Linked DNA regions of Homo sapiens: region 1 is linked to region 2. Evidence: fine-mapped expression QTL. Tissue or cell type: whole blood. Region 2 holds a variant in brackets; the other region holds the start of a gene. All regions are shown on one strand. Distances are between the middles of the regions.

Region 1 (5,829 bases), 140 kb after region 2:
TCTCAGAATTTGGGCCTGTCCTCGGAATGCTGCAGGGTACAGCCCATTCAAGCTCCTGTATAGATGCTCCTTTTTATTAGGCCCCAGTCTCATTCCAGACACCAGACCAACTTGGACTGTGCCCCAGAAAACTTGTCATCCCTACTATCTTCTGACTAGTCATACTCCTATTCACCATACTCAACTACTCATACATGCCCTGCTCTTGTTTACACTGCCGGTTTACACTGTTTCTCCAAACCATTACAGCTGATATCTCCTGGTGCTATCCCCAAACTGCCAGTCTTAACTCCCTCTTAAAGTAAATAAATAATCTTTGCTGGCAGGGCTATGCTGAACCTCCTTGGGCACTCTCTAATTGGATGTCCTGGGTCCTCCCAATTCTTAGTCCTTTAATACCTGTTTTTCTCCTTCTCTTATTCCATTTAGTTTTTCAATTCATACAAAACCGTATCCAGGCCATCACCAATAATCCTATACAACAAATGTTTCTTCTAACAACCCCACAATATCATCCCTTACCACAGAATCTGCCTTCAGCTTAATCTCTCCCACTCTAGGTTCCCACGCCACCCCAATCCCGCTCGAAGCAGCCCTTCAAGGCTATGGAGAAGCAGTATCTCTCCATACCACCCCCCGCCAAAATGTTTGCTGCCCCAACACTTCAACACTATTTTATGTTATTTTTCTTATTAATAAAAGAAGACAGGAATGTCAGGCCTCTGAGCCCAAGCTAAGCCATGATATCCCCTGTGACCTGCACGTATACATCCAGATGGCCTGAAGTAACTGAAGAGTGAAAATGGCCTGTGCCTGCCTTAACTGATGACATTATCTTGTGAAATTCCTTCTCCTGGCTCATCCTGGCTCAAAAGCTCCCCCACTGAGCACCTTGTGTCCCCCCACCGCCAGAGAACAACCCCCTTTGACTGTAATTTTCCACTACCTACCCAAATCCTGTAAAACGGTCCCACCCCATTTCCCTTCGCTGACTCTTTTTTCGGACTCAGCTGGCCTGCACCCAAGTGATTAAAAAGCTTTATTGTTCAAAGCCTGTTTGGTGGTCTCTTCACATGGACGTGCGTGAAAATCCTCATCTTCTCCCCCTGTCCCTCTAAACCCCCACCCAATATCCAATTAATCATCAGGTCTGAGGCTTCCACCTCTTCCACAGCCTCAAATCTTCTGCCTCTCCCCTGGTCTAGGCCACAATCATGCCAGGCCTGTGAACTTCAAGACCCACCTCCCTTGTCTCTTGTTCAATCTGGCCCACCTCCAATCTCTTCTCCACAATGCAGCAGCCTGACGTCCTTCTAAAATATAAATCTGATTATGTCGCCTGCTTAGAATCCTTCAGGAGTCCTCCCCACCCTCTTTTCTGGTCAGTCCAGTGGCTCACACAGATTGTGGCCTGGCTCTCAACCTTCCTGAAAGCCCTTTCCTCTGCCTGGAACATACCTCACGCTCCTGTCTTCCTTCTCTCCGGCGCCAGAGACTAGGTCCTCTCCCTGCTCCCACTGCCCCCATTACACTCGACTGTCCCTGACTGCTTCTTCATCTGTGCTCCCCTCTAGAGCATCGTGAGGACAAGAAGGGTCTCATGTTCACAGTTGTATTCCGTGACTAGTTCAGGACTCGACACAGTTGGCTTTTCATAAATGCTTGTTGCAGAATTTACGAATAAACAAATGAAGAAACAAACGAACGAATCAAAGGTGGGGGAGGGTGTGAAGGTGGAGCTGAACTACAGGGGCAATGCCAGGAGCAGGGATGTGAGGGTCAGATGGAGATGGGGACCAGAGGGAGGGGAAATGAATTTGCAGCAGGGCCAAGCTGGGAGGCTGTGCAAGTACATCCAGGGCCCGCCTTCCTGAAGAGGCCCCAGGCTCAAGCTCAAGTTCGCTGACTCAGACCCCTCCCCCACATTTTTGGGAAGCCAACCCGCCTAGCACGAAAAAGGAAGGGAACCCCTAACGCAACGCCGCAAACCGGAGAAACACCTGGAACCGGAGGGTTTCTCCTCTCGAAACTGAGCTGGCCCATCCCCCGCCAGCCCCTATCTGCCCCCCTCCGCGTCCTAGGCCGGCCCCTGGAGCCGGGGTGCCAGCGCTGCCCGCGCTGGGCCGGGGCTCCAGGCCGCAGGAGGGGGCCGGGCGGGCTTCCGGTCGGCGCGGCCGGGGCGGGGCCGGCGCTGGGGCCGGGCGCTGTCCATGGTGCCCGCGCGCCTCGCCCGGTCCCCGGCCCCAACCCTCCCGCGAGCTTCCTGGCGGGCTCCCTCACCGCTTGTAGTCGGAGGAGAAGATGCCGCCGCTCGCGGGGTCGTGGCCGTACTCGGGCTCCCCGGGGCCAGCGGAGCCGCCCTTGTCTTCGCTGTAGGCGGGGGCGGCCGACATGGGGCGGCCAGGGAGACTTCGCCGAGGAGGAGGTTGCGGGGCCGGAGGCCGGCTGGAGCGGAGGAAGGGAAGGCGGGCCGGTCCGGTCCGGGCTGGCGAAGGCGGCGGCGCGGCAGGGGTTCAGCAGAGGCTGCAGTGTGCAGCGGCGGAGGCTGCGCGCGGATTTCTCAATCAGGGCCGCGCGCTGAGGTCTTAAAGGCACCGGCGCCAGCCGAGCGGAGGGCGTGTCCGCGAGGAGGCGACAGGGGCGGTGCGTCAGGGCCTGGCCCCGCCCATCCCTAGGAAATGCCCTCTTCAGGGCGTCTTCTGCCCTTTAAAGCGACTTGGCTCGTCTCCAGATCTAAAGGTGGGCGAGTCTGCTGGACGGACGCTGGGACCGTCTTGCAGGGGATGTGGAATAGCTGCCCCCACCCCCGACCACCTGGCCTCGGCGGGACGGGCCTCTGGGGCTCCGCTCTCCCCAGACGCACGCGCGGATGCTCACCCACGCCGTGGAGGGAAAGCGGGAACTGGAAAGAAGGCTGTGCCCGCAGGCTGGGGGTTCTAGAGCGGGAAGGGGTCACCGCACCCGAGGACCGGCCTCAGATACCTAAGGACGCTCCCTTTCCCGCCCCACCTTTCCTACAAAATCTGGCTTGGCAGCAGGAAGCCGAGGAGCTTCCTGGAGGTGGCGGAATTTAAGGAATTAAGGTCAGGGAGCTCCGAGGAGCCCTTGGGGGCTTAGAGAGATGGGAAACAGGATACAGAGGACGGTGAACATCTAATTAAGCTTTGGAAAGTAGTTTAATGAATCTTTCTGAAGCCTCCACGTCCACCCAGGAGGGCCAAGGTCATGCTTAATCCGGGGACACGTCCACGTCCATTGACACCTGAAAAGGAAGAGAAGGGTCTGGTGTGACCACCAGGGCTCCTGAGTCATGTGAGCCCTCCAGTTCAGCTCCCGAGCCCGAGTGACCCCTAGGCCCAAGGAAGGAAGGCTTGGATCCGATGGAAAGTAGTGAATTGGGCTGGGGGAAGAGGTAGGATCCAGTTGGGCATCAGTTGAGGTGGCTGGAGTCTTTTAGCTGGGCATGGGGACTGGAGGAGTTCCTAAGGCCTGAGTCTTGGTCTGTAACTAGCATCCCGAAGTCTCCATGGGCAGAATTGGCGGGCCTACCTGGGAAGGAGTGGGGCCCAGAAAGGTGGAGCTTGGCTCAGTAGAAAAGTTCTATTGGGGGTAATTCTACTGGGGTAAGGTTCTATTGGGGTAATGAGAAGGTTCTGTTGGGATAACCTAGACAAGTGGGTGGGTCCGCTTGGTTCCGGTGGCTTTGTGCCTGCCAGAGAAAAGTGGATCTTGAATTTGGAGAAAACTGGCCTGGGTGGGGAGTGGGAAGAGAAGGGCCTGGATTTTGCAGTTGCGCGTTTATAAGGCGCTTTGGCTAGTCTGCTCAGGAGGTGGGATGGGTCCTGTGCAGGTAGCTGGGCCACGCTCACCGACCTGCTGGAGCTCCCGTCTATTTGCCGGGGGTCCAGGCTGGGACCTGGGACGAGCAGACACAGTGCAAAGTGCACACAGTTGCTGCGCATGGAGTGATAGGATGGTGGGTCCGCGTCCGTCGCTTCGCTCACTCTGCGCAGCACGCGCCAGCAGGAGCGCAGCAGCGGGCGCTGCCCCTGTTTGGATACGATGCCTTTCCAGGAGCCCAGAAACTTCCCAGGAGCCCACAGCCTCCTGAGTTCTTGCCTGCGGGGATCGCCAGAGGGGTGCGGATCAGAGCCAGGCTTAGGTCCTATGCCCTGTGATCCCGCACCCCCATTTCCTGAGACCTCAGGGACCCTGAGTGCCCAAACCCCATTTTCAGAGAAACGTACCCCCAGCCTGGGACTTCAGTCTTTATCCCCGAGTAGCCAGCTCACTGGTGGGGCGTGGCTTGGCTGGGCAGCCTCTCCGCAGACTTGGGCCTGTGTTTCTGCTGGAGGCACTCACCCTCAAAGTGGATGATCTCTCCATGGCCACAGTATATGCCAACGTGGGCCCCGCACCAGCGTCAGGTGGGGGGAATCAGCCTGAACAGGAAGACGTCTCCTGGCTCAGGCTCCCTGCCCTCCAACTACACAGCCTCGAAGTGTTGACCCAGGAAAGCCTCAGAGAGGAAGAACTTAATGGTGCTGACTGCCCCAGTCAGGGCCTGCATGGAGAAAGGGACCTGCCTTCCTGGCGTTTACACAGGCCTGGGATAGGGAGGAGGTGGGTCCTTCCAATGACCATAGGTCGGATGGTCTGCCCAGGGCTCAGGGAGACCTGTCTTGGGCTTGGGCCCAAGGCAGAATGTCTTCACTGCCACACACTTGCCTCCTTGTGCTTAAGGGACTCCAGAGGTCCAGATATCACAGATACATCCTGCCTCGAGCCCCTACTGAGAACCCTTCAGTTCCAGCAAATGGTGCCTCCTCCCCATCCAACTGTCTTCTCATCTCAAAGTCCAGCCATTCCATTCTCTCCTCCTCCCCCCTGCGCTAGGATCCCCTTCCCCAACCAGCTCCCATCTTGCCACTGCTCCTGAAGGCAACACCAGGGACTGGGTGGGTGTCAGCTGGTACCTGAGTTGAGCAGAAGACCTGAAAAAATCGGGAAACCTGGATGAGATTTGGACCTAGGACAAGCATCTCCTCCCAAGTCTGTGTGGAGAAGGACCTCTCCAGAAACCTCTGTTGAGCAGCTGCTCATTTGATCCTTAATACAATCACAAGATAGGAACAATGTCCCCATTTTCAGGATAAGGAAACAGGTTTACAGAGGCTATGTATCACTGGAGTGCACGCAGCTAATGTATTCCTGCATGTTTCTGTGCCCTGTGCCCTTTGTACTAAAATCAGTCACCTCTCTTAGCTCTTCTTCCTCCATAAGGAAGTGAGAAACCTGCTTAGTTCAGGCTTCTCCCATCTCTACTGGAAACAGAAGGCTTTTGGGACTTGGGAGGATGGCCCCATTGCCTGCACTGTGCCTGATGTTTGATCTAAGAGCCTGGGAAAGTGGGTGAAGGTAAGACCTGTGGGCATGGAGCTCTCCAGGGGTGTTAGAGGAGCTGGGAGCAGGAAGTAACACACTACCGCCAGGTGTCTGGGCATCTTTGTTGGAAGGAAGCAGAATTGGCTCCAGCAGATTTGACTGGGGTGGGAAAGACCCATATGCAAATGAAGAGCCAGGCTGCCCAGGCCCACCATGCAGAATGCCAGCTACTGTGTGGCTCACTGTGTCTCTCCCATCCCTGATCCTTCCTTTTTCTCCTGGCCCATTCCATAGTATCTTCTGCATTTTTTTTTTTAAGATGGAGCCTTGCTCTGTCTTCAGGCTGGAGTGCAGTGGCACGATCTCGGCTCACTGCAACCTCCGCTTCCCGGGTTCAAGTGATTTTCCTGCCTCAGCCTCCCGAGTAGCTGGGACTACAGGCAC
Region 2 (5,829 bases):
ACACCTGCATTTCTATGGGCCCAATGTTATAATGTATTTCAGAAAGAGCATTGTAGCTTAGAGAATGAGAGCCAAAGAAGGGCTATACTTCAACCTGATGCCAATGAAAGACAGTGCCTTGGTCAAACACTGATCACCCACAGACAGGTGCCCATCTCCTGTGTGAGTTCTTCTATCTTTTGCTCAGATACGGTGGAAGTGAGGACAGGGGAGGCTGGCTTCATAGGCCCCCAAGGTTGGCGTCAAGAACACACAAAACAAAGTACCGTGGTCTCCAGGCATAGAATACCAAACAGTGATACCATACTTCCTTGCCCAGGGGAACAGGGTAGTTGCTGACCTTTCTGGAAAAACCTGAGTCAGCAGAAGGCCAGTACTTCAAGAAACCCTATCTTAACCCAGAGATAGTTACTTAAGGTAAAGCTCTCCCCATCCACATCCACATAAAACAATTTCAATACCCCTCTCCTAAATGGGGTTTTACCAAAACAACTGGGCATTAAAATGCCTAACAGACACAACGGGCCCAGGCTCTGCAAAGCATTCTAAAAAAAGACCTGCGCCAAACAGGGTGGAGGCCACAGAAATCAACAAGACAGTACCTTGCTGCCATGGCTGCCGGTTCCTGGACCAGGGAGGGAAGGGAAGGACAGCAGACTTGGTGTTTCCCACTGTCAGTACCAACAGCGAATGGCTGTACCACCCCCTCCCCCCCGCCCCTTACCACCTTTTCATTTTCCTAGAGTATCTGCTGCCAATACCTCTTTATTATAATTTACATAAAGCAAAATATGTAGCTTGTAAGTATACCTGTAGTGTTTAAGTTCACATTTCTTCCTGAATACTCCAAGACTTGTATTTAGGCAACCCTCCTCCTTGTACCACAAGAGGGAAATAAACAGGTAACAGAAGGTATAAGCAGAAGCAATTTAAGGGGGGGCTGCCAAGAAGTCCCTTTAGTTTGTCCCCACTGAACCCTACCAAGAAGACAAGGGATCCTAAAGGGGAGTGGCTCTTCTTTTATCCAGCTGGTCACTCTCAACACAAAGGGAAAAAAAAAAAAGATTCTATAGCTGGGAGTTACCCCACCCCACTCACCCTGCCTACCCCTTTCCAGGATCAATGCTCTGAACCCTATGTTAAGTCAATTCCAAATATCTCAGTGCATTATCCAGCCTCATCTGAGGTTAAAATCCTTCCCTTGCCATGATTCAGAGACCACTCACTCTTCATATAACTCCCTGGTTTTTAAAACCACTGAGTAATTCTGGTCATCCAGTAATCAACCCCTTAACTCCCCTCCCCCACCTAAAAGTGTTTTGCTTCATCATCTCCAAGACAGGCCTGGGCACCAGGGGGTTAGCTGGATCTTTTCTGCACAAGGCCACCACGCCTTGGGGACCCTCCTCAGGGCCACTCCAGGTGCAGACTAACAACTCCAGGGAATTTATCAGGGTAAGTGGAAGAGCCATGCCTGCCTTTACGTGGAGCCATCTGTCCTGCCACACTCACAGCTTGCATTTCCATCTCTTGCAAAACAGCTCCATGTTGTATGTGTGTATGGTGGGGAGTGATGCAAAGGGGAACAGAACAACTGTTGCTGTGGATATCTTCGTTCACCACCCCCATGCATCCCCTTACCCCAGCCAACTCATTCTCTGGCACTCACCCGAGTGTGTGCTGCTCTGGGCTGAGGAATCTGAGTCCTGGGTGCTCCAGGGTCGGTCCCAGCCTGTCAGACTGAGGGACTGCAGGCCAAGGCACAAGTCATTTGCATCTGGGAGGCCACGGGAAGATTCTTGCGCAGAGGTTGGGAAAAGCATCCTGCTTGTAACTGTTTCTTCAGAGTCCTGGAAGTCTGTTTTGGAAAGGAGCACAGCAGAAACCTCAGAGTTAAGGGCTGTTTTCCCCAATATTATCAACAGTAAATATTATTAATAATAGTTTCCCCAGGCTCACAGGCCAGACATCCAAGCTGGCTGGATGCTGCAGCCGCTGCCTCTGCACTTTTGGGGACGCTGGGGCAAGAGCAGTTGCCATACAGGCCCCCTCCCCTCACACACACACCCCTATCCCGTCTGCATTACAGACTGGGCCAGCATGTGATCAGGCTGCTGATGCTTCCCGCTGCCAGTGACATCAGCCGGCTGAGCCGTGCAATAGAGAGCGGCATCATCCCTCACAGAACGGGGGAGGAGCAGGAGGGGACGACAGGGAGGAGACTTGCCTCCCAGGGAAAGACAGCACAACAGCTACTTGGAATAGTCCCGGTGCAGTGCCGTTAAGTCTGGGTTGCAAGGCAGCGCCCTCCGGTCTCCAGCAATGGTGGCCAAGCAGCCCTCACGCACGACTGAAGTCCTCTCC[G/A]CCGACAGCAGAGCCAAAGCAGCCGACTGCCTGCTCGTGTGGCTCTGCCCTCCTGCCCCTCCCTTTCCCTCCCCCTGCTCTCCACCCCCAAACCCAAAAACACTCTAGTCCTGGACTCTCTCCAGCTGCTGGCTCAAGCCCTGGCTTTGCAGCCCAATGCAAAGCTTCACAGTCCTGCTAGCAAAAATCTGTGCTCCAAGTGGCCCCTGAGCAGCACCCTGACACAGCAGTGTTTACCACTGAGGAACAAGATAACCTTCAGAAAAATACTGTACACTTGGACCCTGGGGAACAACACCTGGTGTTCCAGGCTTGTCTAGAGCAGCTTATCACAGAGAAAGGGGGTAAGCGTTGGCAGAGTGGGGGAGAGTCACTGGGCTGTTCCAGGTACACCTCAAAGGACATGGCCCACAACCCACATGCCAGAGTGAGACCTGCCCTGACTAGGATAATCCCTGTGCCCAGGTTCCCTCATCCCAACAAGATGGGTATTAGTCATGAACAGATACAGCGGCTCAGCTCCTCCCCTCCCTCCTGCAACTGTAGGCACAGACTGAGGAAACACTCTCGAAGCAGCATCTGACAAACCAAGAGAAACAGTCTCTGAAGTATCGTTACGCCCTATTAGAAACACCAAACTCTGAAACCTAATCACCTAGCTCTGTCAATATTGCTTCTCTTGCCCTTCCAGGAGCCCTGAGCATGATACAGGGCAGCCGTGAGGGCCACTGATGCCTCTAACATCCAGGCCCTCTCTCAGAGGTGCTGCACAAGACCAATGCTTATTTCTGTGGCCACTCACAGCTCCAGCAACAAAGACTAAGAAAATTCAGCTTCTGGAGCTTCCGCCATTTCCTCTTTGCCATCTCCTCCCACATCGGTCCTTTTCCAACATGAGCCCAGGGTCACTGGGCTTCTTCCTCATAAAGGAGGGTAGGGCAACAGGCCCAGACTCACCAGGCAGGCTGCTCAAACCTGGACTCAGCTGGTAGCACTCCACCTGCTTGTTCTCCCCTGTTGCAAGGAGAAGCAAGCAGATACGGGAAGCATGCCCACCTGGGACCTCCCATGGCAGGGTCGAGAGAATAATGCTGCCACAGAAATAGCTGTTCAGAACTTCCTGCAGTACACCCTGTGTCCACAGGCACTCAGGCATAGCCTAGAAGGGAAAATTATCAGTCTCCTTCCTTTGGAGATTTTTTTTTTTTTTTAAAGCTTTGCTGCTGTGTCATCCATCCACGTTATTCCTCCTGGCTGTAGATATTCTGCTTGCTCCCTATCTGTGTTTGTCAAAGCCTTGTTCATCATGGCAAAGGCCTAGCAAAAATCACCCATACTGGTGCTGCCCCTACCCCTGACTACTCCCCTCCTGCTTCTCTATGTTCACCCTTCCCTCAAGCTAAGGATATACTTTAGACTTCACCCATACATATTAGTTACCAAAACACAATGCTTCCTTCAAAAACATCCATATTTAAGTATCTATTCTCCCCTACACCAAATATCTATATAATCCCCATACCCCAATCTGAGGGCATCTATGTCTAGAAGCAGCCATTTTCTACCCATTAAAATCAGGGTGACTGTGCATATGATTACCCCCATCCCTCACGAGGAGAGAATCAACTATGCTCTTGCTACTCAAAATACAGTGTGGCAGACCAGCAATATGAGCATCACCAGGAGCTTGTTATAAATACTGAGTCTCAGGCCCCACCCAAGACCGACAGAATTGAGATCTGCATTTTAACAAGATCCCCAGTTAATATATATGTATGCAAAAAAAGTTTGAGCAGTCGGGTGTGGTGGCTCATGCCTATAATCCCAGAACTTTGGGAAGATTGCTTGAGCCCAGGAGTTCAAGGCAGCAGTGAAAGCCATGACTGCACCACTGTACTCCAGCCTGGGCGACAAAGTAGTTCCCATCTCAAAAGTTTGAACAGTACTGATGTGTACAACTAACACAATCTTCCCACCCCAAGCTGAAAGACCCCAGGCCTGAGCAACAGGTCTGTTAAACCCATTTAAGACCAAATGGCTACATGCATCCAGGAGCTTGGAGTTCTACACACAGTATAATTCTACCCTCACCCCTACAACCCCCACCACAGACCTCACCTTCCTCCTTATCCAGACATTCCTCAATCTGTTGTTTCTTCTAGATAAAGATTTTCACTACCATTGTAGGATTTCTTCACTAGCTCCAACTCAATGCAGGCCATACCTGTTAAAACCATTAGTGTGGCAGGCTGGAAAAATCAACAGCTTTAGATGACTGACAGACCTTGCTCTGCTCACCAGGTCTGCCACTGTGTCTTTCTGAGAATCTTTTCTTCTTTAAAGATGCAACAGTAGCCATCTTTTAGGTGTTTTGTGAGGATTAAAGAAAATATTTGAGGCCAGGTGCAGTGGCTCAAGTCTGTAATCCCAGCACTTTGGGAGGCTGAGGCAGGCAGATCGCTTGAGGTCAGGAGCTCAAGACCAGTCTGGCCAACGTGGTGAAAACCTGTCTCTACTAAAAATACAAAAAACATTAGCCAGGCACAGTGGCACACGCCTGCAGTCCCAGCTACTTAGGAGGCTGAGGCAGGAGAATTGCTTGAGCCCAGGAAGGGGAGAGGTTGCAGTGAGCCAAGATCGTGCCACTGCACTCCAGCCTGGGCAACAGAGCTAGACTCGGTCTCAAAAAAAAAAAAAAAAAAAAAAAAAAAAATCATAAACCATGTTCATGTACTGGAAGACTCAACAGCGCTAAAAAGTGATACCCACAAAATTAATATACAGATGTTCCTCAACTACAGTGGGGTTATGGTCTGATAAACCCATTGTAAGTTGAAAATATTATAAACGGAAAATGCATTTAAATACATCTAATTTACTGCACATTATAGCTTAGCCTAGCATACCTTAACTGTGCTCAGAAAACTGACACTAGCCTACAGTAGGGCAAAATAATTTAACACAAAACTTGTTTTATAATAAAGTGATGAACACCTCATGTAATTTATTGAATACTGTAATGAAAATAAAAACAGAAAGGTCGTATGGATACTCAAAGTACAATTTCAACTGAATGCGTATCATTTTCACACCATCATCATGTCAAAAACCAAAGTTGAACCAACCTAAGTCTGGGGCCATCTGCACATCTGTGTAATCCCAATATACCAGACTTAAAGCAATTCATTGGGGAAAAACTTTTTAACAAATGGCACTGGAACACCATATGGGGAGGAGGGAATAAACTCTGACCTATATACAAACATTAATTTAGTAGATATCAGAGACGTAAAAGTGAAAGCTAAGTATAAACTACAAAGCCTCTCTAAGAACCTATCTTTGTAACTTGGTAGGGGAGGGGGAGTACATAGAAGCAAGGGTTTCTTTATGTAGAGTACAGAAAGCAATGATCATGGAGAAAGTTGATAAGCTGACCTTATCACAACGAAAAACTTCTGCTCATCA

Evidence for each region. PIP is the estimated chance that this variant, and not a neighbour inherited with it, causes the effect.
Region 1: it holds the start of AP3B2, and the variant in region 2 is fine-mapped to the expression of AP3B2 in whole blood (TOPMed, PIP above 0.99).

What each region holds. Positions count from the first base shown.
Region 1 is chr15:82,707,314-82,713,142 of GRCh38, forward strand. It overlaps AP3B2 (adaptor related protein complex 3 subunit beta 2), which reads right to left and starts at 2,562. Exons shown (of 27, transcript NM_001278512.2): 1 at 2,281-2,562. The coding sequence starts at 2,393. It also overlaps the pseudogene LOC338963. RefSeq lists silencers at 2,086-2,345, 2,566-2,615.
Region 2 is chr15:82,569,675-82,575,503 of GRCh38, forward strand. CPEB1 (cytoplasmic polyadenylation element binding protein 1) reads right to left here. Exons shown (of 13, transcript NM_001365242.1): 4 at 1,670-1,858. Among named protein-coding and RNA genes, the nearest start is that of RPS17, 32 kb to the left of the region's middle. The variant G/A (reference allele first, on the strand shown) is at 2,365.